2 separate regions of the Homo sapiens genome follow, and region 1 is linked to region 2. The links come from fine-mapping of genetic effects on gene expression. A gene starts in region 2. The other region holds a variant in brackets. All regions are shown on one strand. Distances are between the middles of the regions.

Region 1 (11,458 bases), 620 kb after region 2:
GACCAAATAACAATAGTTTGAACAATGCAGAAGGATTGTTTGTGGCTAGGAAAGCCATATGTAATCAACATGGCCTTTTTTGCATTCTCTCTTAGAACTCTGGTTATTTAATTTTTAAATTAAATATACCCCAGTGGTGTTCCAGTGGGGTTAGCCGCTCAGCCACATCAGGTTATTCAGAGACTCCTGCTTCTTTTATCTTATTGCTCTACCAGCCCCTAGGACCAATGAAATCTGAGTATGTGGGGGTGAGAGCCAGGCCTCAGTATTTATGTAGATTCTCTAGGTGTTTCCAATGGGTTAGAGAAGGTGGGGGAACCAGTATAGTAGGGTGTTGTCCTTTTCCCTATGGTTGAAGCTGACTTACCACTACACTTTTCACATTCCAGCCCTAGGGGGACAGAGGGTGGGAGACAAAGTGGAGGGCAAGCACTCCCTTTAAGGATATGACCCAGAAATGACACACATCACTTTCACTCTCATCCCCACGACCAGATCTTTGTAACATGGCTAATCCAGCTCTAAGGGAGACTGGGAAATACGCTGACTGGCTGGACAGCCATGTGCCCAGCTGAAACTTAGGGAGTTCTACACTGAAATAATGACATGGGAATAAATATTGAGGGGCAAAGGGTCATCTCTGCCACATTTTGAATCCATTGATACTTTAGTCTCCTGTCCTCAGAAAATCATTTATATTAATTATTGGATTCCTTTACTGTAAGAACCTATTGTATTTAAAATATAATTTGGATTATTTCCCTCTAAAATAATATATTCTTTCCCACATAGCAATCCATCTAACATTTATCTCTCTCTTCAGATATATTTGTAAGAGCTCCAGAGCTCTCAAGGTTGTTTTTGTTTTTTTTTCCATTGGCTTTCACTACAGAAAGGCTTTGGGGTATTTGGTGATTTTATGTAATTTTAAAATTTTGTGGAAGTTTCCAGAAAAAAAATTCCAAGATAATATGGAAATTCTGTTTTTGTTATGTGTTTCTTATGTGTTAGGCACTGCATATTCATTAACTCACGACTTAGAACTATCTTCAAGCCTCGGATCATTGTAAACTCACACCTGGGGACATTTTGGTCAGTTCCTATTTGGGAGAGTGGGGATTCTGAAAAGATCCACTGCAAAAGTTATATAGCTCTTCCAAGATGTTCTGCTGATGAATCACAGCCCGGACTCTTCTGGATTGTGGGAATGGTGTGATTAATCAGGACTAGGAAAACCAAGGCAGTTGCTGGAGTAGGGACGCAGAACTTGTTGACTCCGGAAGTACACAGAAGCTAGAAATCAGGAAGGAACAGTAGTTCATTTCAGGCAAACCATCAAGCGCAAGAGAGCAACAGGAGCTTATGGTCAATCCAAGACAGGGTTAGAGCCAGGCAAGCACTCAGGAGCCAAAGATTACCCAGAAGTCAGGAGTTTCCCTCACAGAAATAAGGAAACACATGAAACTTTCAGAAATAGAAAACCTTAGTTCTCCCATTGGCATATCTGTTAATATATGTTGGTACTGATGCTATTTTCAGCTTAATTTAAGTCCTCTGGGATCATTTTGGATCTCTGTGTATTTACAGTGCTTCCTAACAGGTTTGAACCCTTGGCTTTGTGTTTAAATATAGCTCGTGTTTATCCTATATATGATCAAATCACAAGACATTTGAGGCAAAGATATAAAATTAGTTTGTATAATTAACATATGTAATTATTATGAGTGTATATGTATATATATATGTGTGTGTATATATATATATGTGTATATGTATATATATACACACACACTGTCCAAAATGTGTGTATGTCTGCATTCAGTGGATGTTCTATTGATTGCTTAGGTGAAAAGCATTAATGTAGTTTAAACATATATTAAATGAATCCATTGTTAAAAATGATCACTATTCTTGAGAGTGTTCTGTTTGCCAGACCTACTTTGTTTGACAGGATAGAGGAGGGAGAGTAAACGGCCTTCTGGTAGTCATAGAATGAAGTTTGGTAAATGGGTCATGTTACATAGCTAGAGACATTTTCCTCAGTTTCTAGCAAGGACAATTAGCACAACCATATGATTTTTAGGGTCCAAAAAGGAATCATGTTATTCATGGAAGAGCATAGCTTTCAATTAAAATAGGAGAAGTTGATGTTTCTCCTGTATAATTTTTAGTGCGCTAATAATTCTCACATGTAAGTTGGGTCTTCTCTGTATCATTAAATGTTTTGAGGGTAGCAAATATTCTTTGTGATTTAAGATTTTTAAAAAATTTCTACTTATGGTTTACTTCATTATGAGGAACATGATAAGTTGGATTGTCAGAAAATTTGAGAGCTTAGTACTTGACTGGATCTTCAATTTTAAATATATGTATTTCTATAGATGAGGATTTGGGTCAGATTCACCTTTGATGATGTTGTGAAAATATAAGCAAACCGTAATGAGAGATCTAGGTAGTCAGCTAGGATATTTGAATAAATTTTTTAAAAAGAAAATGTCTGCTAACATTTAAAGAAAATAAATTGCCTATAGTTTTACTATGTTGTACTATATATCCTTCCTACAAATTATTTCTTTTCCAGTATGTCACAATTCAAAGTTCCAACTCCTCTATGATATTCTGTAATTTCCCTTAGTACTGAATATGTGTTAAGTAAAATCTACAGGTTTTTTTTTTTCCAAATAATACAGAACTAAAAAATCTGTAAAAGAGAAAAAAGGAATTACCATAAAATGCATCAATCTGGGCAGAGCTTGGAAGGCTGAAGTGGGAGCATCTTTTAAGCTCAGGAGTTCAAATCTAGCCTGGGCAACATGGTGAGACCTCTGTCTCTAAAAAACAAACAAACAACAAAAAACAACAACAACAACAAAAAGAAAATGCAACCAGAGCTATTTATAAATTAATGTGCAAAACCAACTTTATTAAGTGAAAAAACTTATTTTCAGCAATGAATCAGGCAACCTAAAAAATAACCCCTAATATGCTAAGCATTGTGATTGATTCTCTCCAATGATTGCTTTCAAAATCCAGATATTTTTATTCTTCATGGTCCAAGGCATATTTCTTGAGCACCTACTGTCTGCCAATCACTATTCAAGGTTCAGAGGATATAGCACTGACAAGCATTACAAATTCCTGCTTTCATGGAGCTCTGACTCTAACCTAGGAGCTACAAGATAAATGAGTAAAATATATGATGTATTAGCTAGTCTAAGTGCCTGGGAGAATAAGTGAAGCAGAGAAGAGGAATAAGTGTGCATGTGTTTTGACATTTTATGTAAGATGAAAAAGCAGGCATTCACTCTTTTCTGTCACTCTTCTTTTTTGTAAATCTCTAAAAATATTTGAAAGAATTTTTATTTTTTACTGTTAACCTTAACAGGCAATATCCAGGAGGAAAGTGCCAATTGATTTCTTGTTTAAATCTTCAGTGTAGTGATAATTCAGAGGTGAGATTAAACCCAGATGTACATTGCTAATAAATAAAGTTAATAGAACAGATTAGAAAAAGCATGGTGACACTAAGACTTAAGGCTTTAACTAGTGTCATTCTTTAGTTGTCATTTTTCAGTCTATTGACTTTAATATAATAGGCATATATTTTTTAAAGGTGCAATCTTTAAAATCCACTGCCTCACTCTGTTCTGTGTTTATACCATTGAGGAGCTTATTTTGTGGAGTGTTTTGTCAATAAGGTTTCATGCCCAGCAGCTCCATGTCTAGTGGAACTGCAGCCAACATTCAAATTCATCATGGATGGGAACCCAGCACGCTGTGCAGTTGGGGCACCATAGGCTGAAAAGCTTCTGCTGGAAATGAAGTATCCTTTAGCAGCGAGGGGATGGAAGCATTGAACAAGTGGGGCAGGGGTGGGAATTGGAGATCTTGAATGTGCAGCAGGCTCTAAAAGCCATTTTATGACCATTGCCTTAGATAATCCCAGACGTGAGTTAAAAGCTAAGGTATGAGGTGCTTTCATACATTTTTCTTATTTAAGGCCTTTCCCTGAAAGGGGATGGGAAGGATCAAGAGTACCTTGCATTCTGAGCAAACTGTTGCAAGGACAGAAAACCAAACACCACATGTTCTCACTCATAGGTGGGAATTGAACAATGAGAACACTTGGACACAGGGTGGGGAACATCACACACCTGAGCCTGTCGTGGGGTTGGGGGAGGGATAGCATTAGGAGATATACCTAATGTAAATGACGAGTTAATGGATGCAGCACACCAACACGGCACAGGTATGCATATGTAACAAACCTGCATGTTGTGCACATGTACCCTAGAACTTAAAGTATAAAAAAAAAAAAAAGAGTACCTTGCAAACCCTCCCCGGCTTTCTTCCTGTGGTATTGTCTCTCTGATTGCCCTATAGAAATGACTCCCTTGAGGCTTGTGGACAGCTGGAAGAGGCCCCTATGTGGCCTGTAAAGTGCTATTGGAAGCATCTGCCAGCGACTGGGGAGGGGAAAGGTCACTTGAGGACTGTGGAAAATATTCCCTTTCTCCTTAGCATCCTGGAACGT[C/T]GGCTCTTGACTAAATTGTTAATAGAATCTGGGAGCTCGGATTCTGGTGCTGACATTTTTTTCAGGGTTAGTTCTAGAAATGATATTTCTTAAGCAGCCTTTTGCGGAGCTTCATTCTTTGGTTCACTGAATTCGCAGCACAAAGAAAAGGAAATAGCTTTATTACCATCATCATTACCAACTTCAGAATAGGAATGGGTGAATAATTATATTGGGCTTTTAAAAAGTATAACCAAAGGGAAGGAATTTAGCTGTCTGTATTTTTTTGATAAGGTTATGTGCTTTCTTCTTCCTGTTTCTCTTTAAGGAGACCTTTCTGTGGCTCATACATCATAAAAGTTAAAAGGAAGTGCAAACACAATTACCACAGAAAGTTGAAATCTTTCGCATCCACTTCTCTTTTGTGCTATTTGTGACCTGTCTGCCTGATTGTTTCAAAGTAAGGAAAATCCTGGGTTTCTTATCTATGCTTTTCAGGGGAACTGGTTTTGACTGTGGTTTGAATCTGACAAAATGGAGACAATCAGCCTTAACCTAATAGCCGTTGTACCAAACTAACCCACAAGAATGCAAAGGATACGGGTGAACTTTAAAGGCAAGACTTGCCTAAGGAAATAATGCAAGATACAGTGCCTAGGAAGGAAATCAGATATGTAAAACTCCTTGAACTCTGTAACAGAATTTTCAATCCATCAGTAGCTCTTACTTGGAGGCTTTGAGATTTTCTGCCGCACTCTGCTCAGCGTCTTAATGCTCATGCCAGTCATCAGGTTGTCGTGTGGCTGGGGTCACCATGCCAGAGCCTGACCTGGAGGCCCTGAGTGCTGACAGTGCTCATTTATCAAGAGCACAGTGTTTGGTTGGGGTTATCACTGGGGAGTGAGGCCGCGTTTAGAGTTTGGTCTAAGACAATGTCTGAATGTGGCAGGGGGTCATAAAGGAACCGGGGACAAGGGTTAACCCAGCTCAGTTCTCTCTCTGTGGTCTATGAATGCCACAGCCAAAGCAGCAGCTTCAGAGATCTCTGCTACCTTTTAGAGAAATGTCGTTGCTGTTGCTGAGCCCACTCTCAGGTATTCTGGTCTCATCACCCCCTGTATCTTTTCTCATGCAGGAGCCTCTGGCACTGACTGTGTAGCTTTGAGTGTGGCCTTTAGGCTTGTGATGACTCTGAGGGATGGACCATCCCATAATAATAAGGATTAGGACCAAAATTATAACCCAAGGAGAGGTAGATTTTGATTGCTTTTAAACTTACTTCCTGAGATGATTAGAGTAACATTTGAGACAGTTGGTTTGTAGTTACTCCCTCAAGTCCATTTTCCACCTAGGAAGGTTTATTAATGTTTTATGATTATTGTATAATTTAGAAGAATATTTACCAGCTGCTGGGACCTTCCTCATACATCAAGTCTGGTCTCTTCTGGAGATGGAACCCTCAGGAAAAACTTGAAATTCTTCCTGACAGCTTGTTCGAAGGTTGCCATTTATTTTGGTGAGTGGGTTCATTTTGCTACCGCTGTGTAAAAATGGGAAGTCTCTTCCTTCAGCTCACATACATTCCCAGGTGAGCACAGGTGAAATGTGTTGCTACAAACAAAAGGAAGAGAGTTAGAGAATCTTATGCCCATCATCTGAGTCTCACTCCGGTCTGAAAATTTCTATAATTTCTAAAATTTCTATAGCTCAATTTGCTCTAATTCCTAGTACCTTCCATATTTTTTCCTCTTGGTTGTTTATGCTGTAGTTATAATCTGCTTAGAGATTCCGTAAGTATGGGAAATAGTAAGAGGGAAATCAGCTATCTCCATTTTGGGAAGTCAAAGTGTGAAGTTGTTTTGTTTATTGACCTGATGGTGTATATTTGTGTAACAGTTGTTGAAGGTGAGTTAATCTCGATCTGTTAATCTAAACAGATCGAAATCTATTCCTTGGAGTCATAGCCTCTAAATTTCATGTAAAGCAGTGTAAAGTTCAGATACAGTTTAATCATCAAACTACCGCCCCACACTAAAAAATATAATAAATAAAAAGGCCCAAACCACCAAACCTAAAATGAGAACTATTCCTATTCATATGAAGAAATAGTGTAATGACCATCAGCCTTTCAACAACATGGTATTAATTATGCCAGCAAAAATAACCATACCCCTAATCTATTTTTATGGTCCTATGTCTCTGATGGAACTAATTTTCAAATAAAGCCTAATCACTTACTTGGCAGTTCTCAGCTCCAACAACCTCCTACAGAGATTCTGTTGGGCTGCTAGTTTGGGAAAATATACCAAACATAACTTGGAGTTAGAGTTCTCACACTAATAGCTACAGACTCATGTTTTCTTGATCAAGAGGTAATCCTCTTTCAACTTCAGAGTAAGAAATATGAAATAAATCAGGAGAAAATCATTTTCCTCTTCTGTGATTGTGAAACAACTGATTATCATACAGGAGCCTATTCCAAGTGCATGTCAGGAGGCTTGAGGGTCAGGACAGAGACTGGGGATGCAGGGCTCACTTCATCCACCTGCTAACATAGCAGCAGAAAGGTGCTATGTGCAGCTGTTTTGCAATTATTATTCTTATATTTATTTACCCAATGCAAACAGATTCCCTTTCATCTGTCGTTCTAGTAACAAAGAGTAAATGCCTGAGGCTTTTGGCTAGATTTTACTTTTCACAGGAACTGTTGAAAAGGTTGTCCCATTTCATGGTGTTGCTTTTGTGGAACAGTGATTAAAGTGGTCCCATTGAAGAGTAGGTGCAGGGGTGTAGAGTGGTATAGGGGGTGATAAAGGTAGCTTGGGGCCAGATGGTGAATAACAGTAGAGGTAGTTTAGGACTAATTAGTAGACAGTGTGGGAGCTAGGGGAGATTTTTGAGCAAGGAAGTCAAAACAATGGGCCTTGGTTCAGAAAGCGTCGTCTGGGAGGCCGGCTTCTAGCCAGAGTGCAGGAATGGCTCTGTTGGGCACAGGTGAGACCTGAGAGAGATCAATTCATTAAGCTCAACAAAAGTCAGAAAGACTAAATCGGTGAGGAATATTGCTGATGCTTGGACCTCGGTCCAGACCAGCTTAATTAGAATCTCAGGGTGCGGGGAGAGAGGGTGGAAGTCAAGAATTGCTATTTTTAAAAAGCTCCCCAGGTGATTCTAATGTGGGAGTAGGGTTCAGAAATACAAGGAAATGAATACATGACATTAATATATATATTAATCAAGGATTGAGATACATGCTTTCCAAACTGCCCCTAAAAAATAGGTAATATCATAATAGAATGAATGATGAGAAGAGATGCACTGACAAAATCCACTTATAAAACTAAGAAGTAACTCAACATCGAAGAGGAAACTAAAAAGAAATGAAATTAGCTAGGAGGCTGCATTTATTGGAGATATAGTTATCCATTAATACTTTGCAATAGTAATGAGAAATACTGTTAGTGGAAAAGATATAGTTAAAGTTTTGATTTAACTTAGGTAGAAAGCAGTCAACAAATCATTTTCCATGTGTCTGAGCAAGGCAATAAGACAACAGTGATTAGTGGGAAGTACTCCTGACGTGGGAAAGGAAGTATGCTACTTTGGGAAATAAGGATGTTGTAGAAATTAATATTTTAAAGTCTTTGGAGAATTCCCATGGAGGACTGATGTATTTTCCAAAGTTCTTTGTTGTGATGAGATATGGAGAATTATTTTCTAAGTGCCAATTTGTGAACATAAGCATATGCATGCCAAGGGAGATTTGAAGTGCAAGAAACTGATTTCTGTAAAGCCACTTGTTTGATGTGATGTCCTTAATGGTTTTGTTTTGTTTTCATATTTTCCCTTATGTCTAAAGATATAATTAAAGTTCACTGCCGTGAGGGGCTCAGGTGTCTTTACTTTTGGCTGAATGAGTAATCGCCCTTGATTTCTGATTGCAGTAATTTCTGTAATAAAGCCCATTGGTGATCTCCATAAAACTTATTACCTCTACATATGAGTAAGGAACAAAAGTGTAACTTTGATTTCTTCCTGTTTATGCCATCAGATATAGTCATGTATTCTGTGTTGAAAGTATGTGAAACCTCTTCTGAATCTCATTGCCTCTTGCAGCTCCTGTGTAAATTCTGTCCCAAAGCTTTCAGGTTCCCTGACTACATCGTTGTATTTACTGCTGAATTTACTGCATTCTCTTCCTCTTTCAACTGCTTCCCAACCTGCCTTTCAGACCCTTTTTTTAAGAAGCTAGGCTCCTGAAGGTTCCCCGTGACTATCTTTTAACCATACCTCTTAGTTCTGTCACCAGTTTTGAGCTCCCTTCACTTCCCCGGCATTGTTCATCAGTGTTACTTGTTTGAAATTCCCTCCCTGTAGGGCCTCCCTTAGGTTCCCTGATGAAACTCTACAGTTACCCACTTTTTTTCTAACTTTCATTTCTTACCTTTGCATCCCTTTCTACCTACTTTAATCCCTTCCAGTAAGCTTATCAACTGACCATGGCCTCTGCAATTACCTTTACATAAACCAGATTAAATTATATTGCTCCAGTGAAGATTTTGAATCCCAAAATCATGTCTTCTATATAAGGACATTCCATTGTATGTCTCACTTTTGCCTCAAACTCAACATGTGCAAAACTAAATTCATCATTTTCCCTTAGAGGACATGTAACTCCTCTTTGTCCCTCCCCTATTTTTCTGTAATTGGTCTTCTCTGGTCTCCCTGGACTGGAAGGCTCAGTGTCATCTTTGTCTCCATATCTTTCATCCCTTGTTCAGCCACTCTCAATGCCGTGTTGATTTCTGTTTCTAAGTGTCACTAGATATACCCCTTTCTCCAGGCCTCCCCTGCTTCTTCTCTGAAGTAGTCTCCTTTACTTTAGGGGTGATACGGCAATAAAAGTATGGGCAGACTGATATCCGTCCAACAAACATTCTCAGATTAATCTTCCTAAAAGAATGTTTTCATCTTTTTATTTCATTTTATCATAAACTTTGCCTCCTTGATGCTCAAACATCCTAATTTATCAACTTGTCATTCTAGAGCCTTTTTACAAAAAAGGGCCTTTGGCATATCTGTCAAATTAACTTGCTGTAGCTACTCCTGAAGAATCTCTCCGATAGGGTTCTCAAGTGATCCATCAAACATCTTGCTGATCTGCCTTTCTGCCTCTACTTATGTATGCTCTTCTTTCTTCTTGAATATCCATACTTGAATATCTTTTCTTCTTTCTTCTTGAATATCCATACTCAGGATCCAATTCAAACATCACCTTTTTGTAATGACATCTCTTCCTAGTCTGTTTCATACCACTTTTATCTTCTTGTCACTTCCTATATAGGTTCTTGTCACTACTAACTATAGGTTTTATTGTTGGTAACGCATATCTTAGCACTTCAGTGTTATTGGTCTTGCATTACTATGTATGTGGGTTTTGTGATAATTTTTTTGTGTGGTATATCACAGTTTATAAAACATTATCATATTTGGGCCTGATAGTAAAGCAAGTCAGACATTTTACAGCTGGGAGCAGTTGTATTAGTAGTAGCCCCAGAACACATGGATACCAAGAGTTAAATGTAAAATGTGAAAGTGGAATCTAAGAGTTAACATCAAGAACAGTGCTAGTTCAACTGTTCTAACTTTCAAGGTCCTTTCACTTATTGCAAAACTTAATGCACATTTTTTTCCTTCATATATTCTATAGAACCTAGCATATGTCTATTACATACTAGGTGTTAAGTATCTTATTGGCTGAAGTAGATTAGTATATGCTATAAATAAGAAAATATTCTATGAATTATAAAAATGTGCTATATACCTTTCTTCACTTAGATTGAAAATTGGAGAAAGAGTGAATTATTACTAAAAATTGCTTTGATGTGTTCTGATAAACAGCTTTTTTAAGATAATGTGAATTATAGGAACCTCGTGTTTGAAAGCTTTTCTTTCAGTGGTGCCTTGGTGTACTACTTTGGACTTAGACTAACAAGATACAATTTGCCAGTATCTTGGTTGAGAAGAAACAACATGATTGCCATGAAAAAAGAAAAGAGAGAAAAAAAGTAAAAGAAAAATCTATGGAGTTTTTAAAAAGCATTCTCATAAACTTGATTTTAAAAGTGAAAATTGATGAACATTCTTCATGTTCTGAAAATATATTTTAATAGGTATTATATATTATAACATGACATCAATTAGCTAAAATCCTACCTAGAAATATGCTAGTTCATTACATTTTGGAGCTAACTTTTCCATGTAAGGGATAACAAAGGATGCGTGAAAGGGAGTTGACATTTTTATTGTTTTTGGTAGATTAAAATAATTGGGTTGGCCAAGTATGAGGGTGAGAACATTTTCCTACTATTTATCATGCAAATTCTGAGAATTTATTTGGAACTCATTGTACAAAGCTAATATTAAGAAAAAGTTACTTAACTTTTACTGGAATGAATAGTTATGATGATCCTCCTAACCTAGAGATGATGCAGTGATATCATTTTAGAAATAATTTTGTTTCAAATTCATTTATTGCTTTGGTCTCTTGCAGTTTTATTACCTTCTTCATGTAAGGATATAAACAATTGGATATTAAGTTAGTTGTAAGACCATGTAGGAAAATGGACAGTTTTTGTGTGCACATCCAGTCTCTGCTGCATCCTGACTGTGGTGACTCAGAATTAGCTCCGGAATCCATCCTTGCTGTGTGTTCCTCATACCACTTCTCAGTGTGGGCTTGTGCACCTCTCTCTGGAGAGCTCTGGCTTCTGCCTTTATTATTCTTCTTCTCAAGCCTTCCTGCACTGCTAAGAAACTAGTTTTCCCAATGAATGGATGATTTTTATTTTGTCCCTCGCTTTCTCAAAACTGTAGCTCACCCTGACCTACTGAAAACCAACCAAAGTTCATGGTCTCCTCTAGTCGGGGCCTCTCAGTCTTTTG
Region 2 (11,194 bases):
GGGGGGGGATTCTTTCTTTTTTAACCATTCTTTACTTCAAAATGAAGTCTGACATAAGAAAATTTGAAAAACGTTTTACATTAACTCTGCATCCCTTTAAAGGTTTATTTTTCTTTCTGTGAAAATAAAAGTTCCTTGAGAAGTCTTTGAGAATGGATTGTTTTAATGAAGTAAAATTTCCCCTAATCTACATGCTGTTTCATAAGTTATACTTTTTGACAAAAAAAAAAGTTTTAAGAATACACAATAAGCTGTAATTTCATGAGTATAGTTTACAGAAAATCCATCTATAATTGGCCATATGTTAAAAGGTAGCTGAATTAATTTTGAATGGCAATACTCAGAAATCTACTCACATGCCAATACAATGATTTTCAAACAAAAAAGGATTAAATGTCTGACATACTATGTATTTTCCTGTTAACTGTCCATCTCCCTTCAGCTGTATGCTCAATAAATATTTGGGGAAAGAATGAAGACAGACAGGTGGGTATTTAGAAGGGTTATAACACCACCCACAAAATGATCTCTGTATCTTCACCATCCAACACCTACCCACTCACAATCTATAGAACCGAGAGGACTAAATCAGGCCTTTTCAGTTTGCTTTCCCATCCTGCTTAATGGCCACATAGATTACCAACAGACCAGAGCGGGCCTGGCCCAGGTCTCAATAGTGAAGTGGAGAAGATAAGTCTCTAACGGTCTTCAAGGACAATACATTTGTGGGAATACCATCTTCCTGCAAAATATACTTTCTGCAAAGACAAAATGAGTTATGCTTATCAATTTATGTTTGGGTGGTGATGTAGATAGACTGCAAGGGAAGAAACAAAGTTCACCAGGGATTAGCTACCATGAGATTACTGAGATTTTGCTTTGTTGGAGGCTAAATGTAACTTTACGAAATGTGGGAAAAAATGCCTCATACATCTCAAGTAAATAAAGTACTGTGGTGCCTAGCCCTTCCCTGGATAGTCACATTCCTCGTAACAAGCTTCTATTGAGTATACAGAAGGGACAAAAAAGTAAAAACTGTCAAAATCTGGAATAGACAACCCTGGTACAGTTGGCACACATATCAAGTAATCCCGACCTCCAGAAATGGCAAGGACCATTTAGAGCGCTATAGGCCCTCTAAAGATGATGCTCATGAGTGGTAGGGAATACCCAATGCACGAGTTAACAGGACAGTGCAATCACATTTATGGCACATTAGAGGAGATGTGACCATACAATCATTAAGTTCAATACCCTAATTTTACAGAGAACTTAAGGCCCAGGGACTTGCCTAATACTACAACGTAACAGAACTGGGATTTAAACCTAGGATCTCAGACTCTCATTCCAGTAGGCTCTCCATTAAAATATGCTTACTTATGTTACTACTTTGGAGAAGGAAAATATATACATACACACAACACACTCCATTTCTTCAGTTTGATACTTACAATTTAATGTATTAAAAATATGTTGTAACATGAAAAATCTGAATTATAAAAAATTAAGGCCAGGAGAGGTAGCTCATGCCTATAAACTCAGCACTTTGGGAGGCCAAGGTGGGAGGCTCTCTTCAGCCCAGATTTGGAGACCAGCCTGGGCGATATAGAGAGACCGCCATCTCCACCAAAAAAAAAAAAAAAAAAAAAAAATTAGCCAGGTGTGGTGGTGTGCCTGAAGTCCCAATTACTTGGGAGGCTGAGGCAGGAGGAATGCCTGATCCTGGGAGTTTGAGGCGGCACTGAGCACTGATTGTGTCACTGCGCTTCAGTCTGGGTGACAGAGCAAGCCCCTGTCTCAAAAAACAAACAAAAATTTAAAACTTTAATTTGAATCTCTCTAAAGTTCTTCAACCTTCAAGTAATTTACAAACCTACATATAACAATTCTTTTAAAAATCCTGAAATCACTTTCTCCCCAGTCTCACTCCAATTTAATATTATTCCTTTCAGGATCTAGATATAAATACAGTTTTTGCCACTAGACAACTGTCTTCTCATACACCGGGAACAGTCTTTTGTTAGCTACAAAAATAACAAAATGCAAACTTCTGGTCGATAAGTAAGGTGAAAAAATAATCTTAAGCCCCTAATACTACACATTCAAATGTTTTAAGATGAAATTTCTTCGACGTTTTTCATATTACCAATTTTAACGATCTAGGAAAAAAAAACTACAGTATATTACAGCAAATTAAATGGTAGTCTTCCATTTAATAATTAAAAGCTAATTTTAAGTTGTCTAGACTCCTTAACTCTAGCATACTTTAAGTTATTGTGGATTTTTCCCCTTTCAAGAATGCTTTTTTGTAAAGCCCATTTAACAAGCTTCCTTTTCTTGCCAATTTGACCTAGTGTATTTCCAGTGCTATAAAGTGTAAACATTAGGAATGTATCTTTGTGTTAAATGTTCTGGTCTCTCAAACGATTTCAACTTTGATGGATGCAATAGATCTAACAATGTTCCCCCTTTAACAACTCCTCATCTGCCTAACCTCATAGGTAGGAGGTATTGTTTGGATTTTCCCTGCTGCGGGCTTCATTACACTAGATCTCTTCCATCTGAACTATAAATCACAATTCAAGCTTGAGAGCAGCTGCCACTGTCCAGACATGTGGCTGGTGGGTGTCATTGTCTTTTTCATTTTCCTCATTTCAAACCCTCCCTTCCCTTGTCACCTAAAGCCATTTTATCTAAAGGTTCTTTGCTTCCCTGCTTTCATGCCGCCACCCCCACCCTCACCCCTTAACCACCGGTCTTGTTCTTCCAGGTCAGCCCAGTCAGATACAATATTACTCTATGTTTTTCCTGTGGCGGAGGCGGAGAGATGTCAGAACGGGCTGCACCTCTTGCAAACCCCTTCTCAAGACTGTCAACAAGGAAACAACTTCAGCAGCCTATCTCCCCAAAGTACCTCGCCAAACGAAAAAGTTATTGTTAATTATGATACGGAACCTTTCCCACACCCAATCTTGACATACCAGCCCCACCTCAATTTCCAAGCTAATAAACAACAGCTCATCTTCTGCTTCATCACAAAGGGTGGTATCCAGTCCGCACCTCACGGACCACCAACAAAATCCTCTCACTCTCAAGTCGATCCCTCGAACCCAGGTGCCCCGCGATCCTAAGCCCTGCCGCGTTTCCCGAGCCCAGCTCACTGCCCTTCCTCCTCTACCCCGCCTCTGCCCCACATCCAGCCGAGTTCCTGTCAACTCCAGACAGGGAACAGAGGGCTCCGCGAGGGCTTCCCGAGGTCAGAGGCGCGGGCCTCGGGCAAGCCCCGGGCGACCCCACCCCCCCACAGGCGCCCCCCTCCCCGCCCCACAACAAGCACCCCATCCCCCGGGCCTCCTCCCCGCTCACCTAACGCCACCTCGCAAGCTTTGCGCAGCTGGGAGTGATGCGCCTTCTTCACTTCCTTGTCGGCCAATATCTTCTCCAGAGCCCGGGTCAGGAACATGTTCTTCGTCTTCTTCCCCTCATACATGGACGCAGAGAAGGAGGCGGCGGCTCGTCCGACCCGCGGCTCCCAGCGGCTGGAGGGGAGGAGGAGGAGAGGAAGGAAGAGAAGAGAGAAAGGAGAGGGGGTGGAGGTGGGGGATTGGAGGCGTGGAGGGCAGCGGCAGGATCAGGAAGGGGCGGGCGAGCGGGACCAGCCGCGGTGTCGGCGAAGGGCGTCGAGGTCCTCGCCGCCCCCAAGAAGCCGTACCTCGAGGGCCGCGCCCGTCGGGCCTCCGCTTCTCCCGGCCCGGGGGTCGCGTCCCGGCCGCCCCTCTCACTCGTCCCTCCGGCCCTGGTGGCGGTGAGGGAGCCCGGCCCGGGCGGCTGTCTGCCGGGAACTGAGGGACGAGGTGGCGGCGGCTCTCAGAGGCACCGCGAGAGAAGGGCTACCCTGGCTACTGTGGGGATTAGCACCCGCCGCGGCCGCGAACTGGCCCCCATCACCGCCGACCTGCCCCGGCCGCCATGTTGGGAGGAAACGACGCGTCACGCAGCGGCCGAACGGCTGCAGACGAGGAAGCGGCGGCGGCGGCGGCGGCGGCGGCGCTCCCTGCCCAGAGCTGCCGCGGCGCCGGGAGGCTGGGGGCGGAGGGCGGCGCGGGAGGAGCGGCCCGAGCCGCAGCGCTACGGCGGCCCGGCGGGGCCTCCAGCGTTCGCCTGCAGGGCGGCGTGGGGCGTGGCGGGCCTCTGGTGGCACCGCGCCCAGCACTTCGGGCTCTTGGTGGCGGCCGAGCTGCGGGACCAGAGATCCCCCCACTCGGCACCCCTGCTCCTGCCGAGTGAACAGGACTCCTGGCTACTCTGCACTGGCTTTCTAACTTTCTGATGGGGGTGCAGTCCTTTGCATTCCAGGGGTCACAGCAACACCCGCATCGCCCGTTCTCAGCCGCAGGGTCTCCGCCTGCATCACTCGACTCTAAAATTTCCTTCCCTAGTGCACGGAACTGCTGTCCAGGACTCTGCTCTCCGACTACCTCAGGGAGGATTCTGTTTTGGGAAAAGTAAGCCAAAACCTATTGATAAGGGTTCAAAAATGTTTCACTTTTTTCTCTCTCTGTCGGATAAATCGGTCAACTCTAGATTTCAGGTCCCTTCTGAATTGACTCAGTTAAGGTGAATGGTTGTGAATGAGGTCCCTTAGAGTTCTGTGTTTCTGTGCCTTTAATACTAAGATTTAGTCCAGGACATGTAAACCAGTTTAGAATGGAAAAGCTTTAAGTACAAACAGATTAACACACGTGACCATGTGTTTGCTTTAGTCTGAGTGTAGAACTCAAATTTCTGCAGTATTTAATTTCTACAGTTTCCTTCTGAGCAGAAAAAGAATACCATAAAAATATTTGCAAACATTATATATGGTGATCTAGGGTCACGTCTCCAAGTTCTAAGCTTCTGTGGCTCCACGCACACAGGTTCCCTAATGTTTACTATGCATCTGTCACTGTTCTGTTCTATTAGATTGCCTTAACTATAGGCTTGTCCTAACGTAACCATCCAAACCTAAGGAAGGAGAAACTTAAGTGACTCTGTGAACTTAGTGAAGTGACCAGATTTAGGAAGGCTAAAACCCAGAGGAAATAAAATGGAAAACTTGAAGGTGACAAATTAAAGTGGAAAAATAGATTAATTTTTTTAAACTTTATTGTCCTGAGAAACAAATCTATAAATTCATTAATTTTATTTTAGAGACTATCTCTAGATTCCTGGAAATGAAGGATTCATTATACTCTTAGATCAGATATAATACTGATTTCTGTGTATACGTTAATAAACTTTTTTAGAACAAGTTCCATTTCTTTTATTTTTTTCTTCCCTTCTTTCACAGGTGTTGATCCATTTCTAATTCATCTTTGTTTCTTCATAATGGAGTGTTGTGCCAGGTACTGTTGAGGGTACTAGCTGATCACCAAACCCATTTACTCTTCTTTCTTAGTATAGAATTGCATTGTCCAGCCTCCCTTGAAGTTAGGTGTAGCCATCCAGGCTTAACCTATTGTTAAAAAACCAACAAGAAATTCCCACAAGCAATCTTTCATGCTGTTTCCCTTTTTTTTTTTTTTCTTTTGGTAGAGATGGCATCTCACCATGTTGAACTCGTGGCCTCAAGCGATCCTCCTGCCTCAGCCTCCCAGTGCTGAGATTACAGGCATAAGCCACCATGCCCAGTCTCTCTTTTCCCTTCTATGGCCACAGCTGAAGATGGCAGAACCACAAGTTAGGAGTCTTAGTTTCTGAATTGGAACTCTTGGAGAAGAACCATCTAGAATAACTATTTTGTACTTTACATGAACGAAGCAGACTCTTCGGTTATGTTTAGCTGTCAGCTTTATCGTAAAACATACTTGGGATTCATTGATGAACAAGACAAGCTGGCACCTGTAGTCCCAGCACTTTGGGAGGCCAAGGCAGGAGAATGGCTTGAGGCCGGGATTTGCAGATGAAACTGGGCAACGTAGCAAGACACTGTCTTTACAAAAAATAAAGAAAAATTAGCCAGGCACGGTGGCATCCACCTGTAGTTGCAGCTGCTCAGGAGACTGAGGAGGAAGGATCGCTTGAGCTCAGGAGTTCGAGGCTGCAGTGAACTATGATATGATAGTGCCACAGCATTCATAATCATCTCATCTGCTTGCCTTGCTTGTTGATTGGTTGCATGTTTCTCTCATAAGTGCAGGGACCTCATATCTCTGTCTATTCACTTCTGTGTGCCCATCATCTATTATATTGCTGGCATAGAGAAGGCCTTTGCTATAAACTTATAGAAACTTGGATAAATGAAAGGCACCAGGCTAAGACAAGCATGATACCTGCCCTTTTGGACCTTACAGTATAGAGTAGGGAAAAGATATTAAGTCAGTAGTGAATATACAATTACAAATCTGTTGAGTATGATTAAAGAATAGAGTGCTGTGAGAGAAGGGAGAAGTAAATTAAATTGAGACCTGAAAGAAGAGTAGACATTAGCCAAACTAAGTCATGAAGAACTTTCCAGGCAAAGTCTCTTGGGGTAGGGGGAAGCTTGGCAAGTTTCAGGAAACAAAACAAGGCAGTGTGGCTGAAAGGATCAAGGAGAATGGTGCCAGTCAGGATGAAGAGGGAGCTAGGAACCAGATCATTCAGACTCTCGTAGGCCATGTTAGGGGGTTGCAATTTCATCGTAATAACAATGGAAATTCATTGAAAGGTTTTAAAAGTGGGGGATAAAGTGATCAAATTGGTGATTTTAAAATAATCCCTCTGTTACATGGAGAATGGATTGGAGGGGGAGAAGTGAGGATGTGGCAAAACATTTTAAGAAATTTATTACAACAGCGCAGGATGGCTTGGTCAGGTCCAGGGCCACCAAGCAAGGTTGTGGAGATCGTGGCACAAGGGAGCAAGTGTGGCTGAAATCCAGCCCCACTGTCTGCCCAAAAGAAGAGGCTTCTTTCACTAATTTGCATAAAGGTTAGCCCAGAAATGACAGTGGTAGCATGGAGATGGAGCAAAGTAGACAGATTTGGGATATACTTTGGTGGCAGAATAAACCGGACTTAATTAACTGGAGTGCAGGTTAGAGAGAGAAAGAGGTCACAAATGAATACCAGGTTTCTGCTGGGAACCAGTGAACAGTTGGAAATGCCATTTGTAGAGATAGGCTAGATGGAAGATTTGAGGGTAAAGAGTGTAGTTGTCAGTTTCAGAAGAATAAACTCCTCTGAGATATGACCTAACCCTCCCAGAAGGAATGATTTGCATCTTCCTTTGGGAGGACAACTCATCCTCTTCCCTTGCTGGGTTTACCCAAAAGGTGGTGGTGCTTGAGGGTGGAGGGGGGTAGGAGTAGTCTTACGAGATGGGCACTCCTATCCACTTGAAACTCAAGATACTAACTCAGACCTGTAGCAAAAATAGAGTAAGACTCTAGAATAAAGCTGATGCTCTTGGATATTTTCAATCTTTTATTGACAGGTACACAGGGAGTGGCAAAGGAGATTTTTACATGAAATTATGAGTACAGACCAGGCACTGTGGCTCATTCCTGTAAACCCAGCACTTTGGGAGGCTGAGGCGGGTGGATCACCTGAGGTCAGGAGTTCAGGACCAGCCTGGCCAACATGGTGAAACCCCGTTTCTACTAAAAATACAAAATTAGGTGGGCGTGGTGGCGGGTGCCTGTAATCCCAGATACTCAGGAGGCTGAGATAGGAGAATCGCTTGAACCCAGGAGGCGGAGGTTGCAGTGAGCCAAGATCATGCTGCTGCACTCCAGCCGGAGCAACAGAGTGAGACTCGATCTCAATTAAAAAAAAAAAGAAAAGAAATTATGAGTACATTCCCCTGTATATATATATTTTTTACTTTTTATTATTAATGTTGTTTGGTGCTAATATACAGCTATGTAAATAAATGCAATCTCAGTATTCACTTGCACTTGGCTCCTTGCAGTTTTCAAAACATCCAAATTCTATTTCTGAATTTCTAAAATATCTATCCTCTAAATTTTGAAATATATTTTTCCTTTTTTTGTTTTGTTTTATTTTTTGTTTTTTGTTATTATTATTTTTTGAGACGGAGTCTCACTTTGTTACCCGGGTTGGAGTGCAGTGGAACGATCTCGGCTCACTGCAACCTCCGCCTCCCGAGTTCAAGCAGTTCTCTTGCCTCAGCCTCCTGAGTAGCTGGGATTACAGGCGCCCACCACTAAGCCCAGCTATATATTTTTCTTATACATAATTGCTTTCCTGAGTCCATTTTGCCTCTCAGTTTGCACTCTCACCTTCCTATCACCTAATTCCCCCTCATCATTTCCCCTTCCATCTGTTAGTTTGCTGCGTACTAGCTGCTTTGGCTTTACTTCTTGGATAATTTTCCCACTTGTTTCCAAAGAGTCAAATAATATCAAGCAATAAAAGACTTTGATCTGGGTTTTAGCATCTTTATTGGTGTGCTTTATCATAGTCCTTTTAAATATAGATATACATTGAGTGTAACACAAAGATTAAAATCTGAATAAAATTTTAATTAATGTGGAGCATATTTGGTTGATGTTGAAAGCCAATATTAGTTAACATAAAAAATAACATCATGTTTACTTGACTAAAAAAAACTATGTGATGCCTCCGGTAGTCTTTCTCACATAATCTCAGAATTTAAACATTCCATAATCTGACTCCTGACATTGGTAGAGGAGGAAAAAAATTATTTTCCCTCTACCCGTGTTGTTAGTTCATTGGCTGGGGCTCTGCAAATTAGATGGACAAAAGACAGATTAATAAAAGCAAAGATGTATTAACCTGTGCGTGGTACAGTTATGGGAGTACTCAGTGATGAGTAACTCAAAAGTGTGGTGGTTAGAACTTGTTCTTCCATAGCATCGTAATAAAATAACAATAAATTTTTAGAAAAATCCTACAAAGGAAAGGACTTTGAGTTTCTAGCGTAGCAAATTTGGGAAGCAAATTTGAGAGAACTAGCAGAAGATGAAAGCTAGGTAATAAAATTTGTTATGTATTATTGAATCCTAAGGGTCCAGAGTTGTCTCCAGTGATTAACTTTTGTCTTTCCTGGTAAAGGGGTGGGGGTGTGGGAGTGGGCGGGGAGGAGACACCTTTACAAAGCCAGGATTACAATTTGGCAAGTCTAGCTCCAGAGCCCATATTCTAAATAACTAAACTATGCCGCCTCTAACAGTTTAGTTTGTCTTTTATGGTAATGCCCCAGTCCCTCTTCCTCAATTGTACACATGTAGGCACTCGTGTTCCAGCTCATTCCCTTCTCCAAATCACCCTCTACCTTTTATCCCCATGCAACGTACTCATATAAACACCAAGTTCATTCACACCTGTGTGCCTTTGTTCGTCTTTCAAATGATCCAGAGTGCTCACTGCCACCTTTCTTTTATTTGTTCTCCCCAAAGGCTTCCCAACCTTCAAAGTCTCTTTGAAATTCCATCCTCTCCTAAAAGTTCTTTCTTCTACCTGCAGTAACACTATTCTCTCCCTTCTGTGTCTACACTTTATGCCTAACTGTCCCCAGTAGTGTTGAATTCTCTACTTTTAAGTTTTTGAAGACTAGGCATACACAAAAAGATGAGGCAGCCAACTTAGCAAAAGATGAGAAACATTGATTAAACAGAAACAATCAGTTTTGCTGAAACCACAATAATGGCATGACTAATAGAAGAAAGGCCATCTCCAAAATAAATGGTCTGCTTTCTTGGCTTTTCATGTAAGCTAATTTGATATTCCACTTTCACTAGTCTGCTTGTTTTTACCTCATTTATTAAGACAGTAAATGGATATAGTGTATCTTTAGCCAAGCGCAGTGGCTCATTCCCATAATCGCAGCACTTTGGGAGGCCGAGGCAAGCAGATCACCTGAGTTCAGGAGTTTGAGAACGACCTGGCCAACATGGTGACACCTGGTCTCTACCAAAAAAAAGAAAAAAAAAAAAATTAGCAGGGTGTGATGGCACATGCCTGTAATCTCAGCCACTTGGAAGGCTGAGGCAGGAGAATCGCTTGAACCTGGGAGGCGAAGGTTCAACGAGCTGAAATTTGCACCACTGCACTCCAGCCTGGGTGACAAGAGTGAAACTCAGTCTCCAAAAAAATAAAAAAGGATATAGTGTATCTTTAAACTGGGTGGTTCTACTTGTTGTCCTGCAGGCAAGGTATCAAGACATTGGACAGGGCAGACAGAGGGAGAGCATTGTGTATTAAAGAATTTGATTTAGAAAGAAAAGAAAGCAAATTTTTATTGAAAAAGAGACTATAAGGTGGTATTTGATAAAGAGAACATTCCAAAAAGTTAGAATGTGGTTGCAAAAAAATAAATAAATAAATACAAATCTAGAGCCATATGGCTTTTCGTGAATTTAAAACCATCCAATGCTAATCTTTTACAGAATAACAAAATTGAAAGCATAAACTCTTAAATTTTCCTACTATGTTTGGTTTCACAATTCTCTAGCATGACGAAAGGTACTTACTTTTAATCTATAGCACTGTACTCTACTTTTCTCTACACAGTTGTAATTTTTCCCGGAAAGTCACACCAATGATAGCTACTACTTATTGGATATTTACTTTGTATGAAGCTCTTGGCAAGCATTAAGTCACTTAATCCTTAATCCACAACTCAGTGATACATATATTATTATTTCTTTTTTATAGTTGAGAAGGAAAAAAGTTCAACAAGTTAATTGCCCAAGGTTACAGTGTAGCACAACCAAATACAAATCTAAGTTTGTCATTTGCCATAATCCATGGATGCTCTTAACCATTGTTTCATCCTATTTCTTTCTTCGTCACATATTTCTAAATATCCGTTTGAGATGACTTCTCACCAGTATTGTGCCATAATTATTTTAAGGCAGGACCACATTGTCTCTTTCTTTTGAAACTACCCTCAACAGTTAGTACACTGAAAATAATTTTAAGTGTTAATGAATAAGTGGACATTAATCTTTCTAATGAGGTCAGGTTTTCCAAAATTTTTTTAATGGGAATTTTTTTATTAAAAGCCTGCCTTTTGAGGGAGGTGGGGGGGTCAGCCCCCCGCCCGGCCAGCCGCCCCGTCCGGGAGGTGAGGGGTGCCTCTGCCCGGCCGCCCCTACTGGGAAGTGAGGAGCCCCTCTGCCAGGCCACCACCCTGTCTGGGAGGTGTACCCAACAGCTCATTGAGAACGGGCCATGATGACAATGGC

Alleles and levels. Positions count from the first base shown, and alleles are read on the strand shown. Sizes are in standard deviations (SD) of each study's normalised expression.
For the expression in hippocampus of the gene that starts at base 4,037 in region 2, T is the low allele of the variant in region 1 and C is the other (large effect, 1.7 SD a copy in GTEx).

Evidence for each region. PIP is the estimated chance that this variant, and not a neighbour inherited with it, causes the effect.
Region 1: its variant is the best candidate, but not a certain one, in a credible set for the expression of ARFGEF1-DT in hippocampus (GTEx, PIP 0.89).

What each region holds. Positions count from the first base shown.
Region 1 is chr8:67,963,765-67,975,222 of GRCh38, forward strand. All of the region lies in intron 1 of PREX2 (phosphatidylinositol-3,4,5-trisphosphate dependent Rac exchange factor 2), which reads left to right. Among named protein-coding and RNA genes, the nearest start is that of PREX2, 17 kb to the left of the region's middle. RefSeq lists an enhancer at 6,967-7,468. The variant C/T (reference allele first, on the strand shown) is at 4,535.
Region 2 is chr8:67,339,798-67,350,991 of GRCh38, forward strand. It overlaps ARFGEF1-DT (ARFGEF1 divergent transcript), which reads left to right and starts at 4,037. Exons shown (of 5, transcript NR_136224.1): 1 at 4,037-4,505. ARFGEF1 (ARF guanine nucleotide exchange factor 1) reads right to left here and starts at 3,984. Exons shown (of 39, transcript NM_006421.5): 1 at 3,367-3,984. The coding sequence starts at 3,490. RefSeq lists enhancers at 2,998-3,678, 9,284-9,784 and silencers at 3,605-3,834, 4,015-4,274.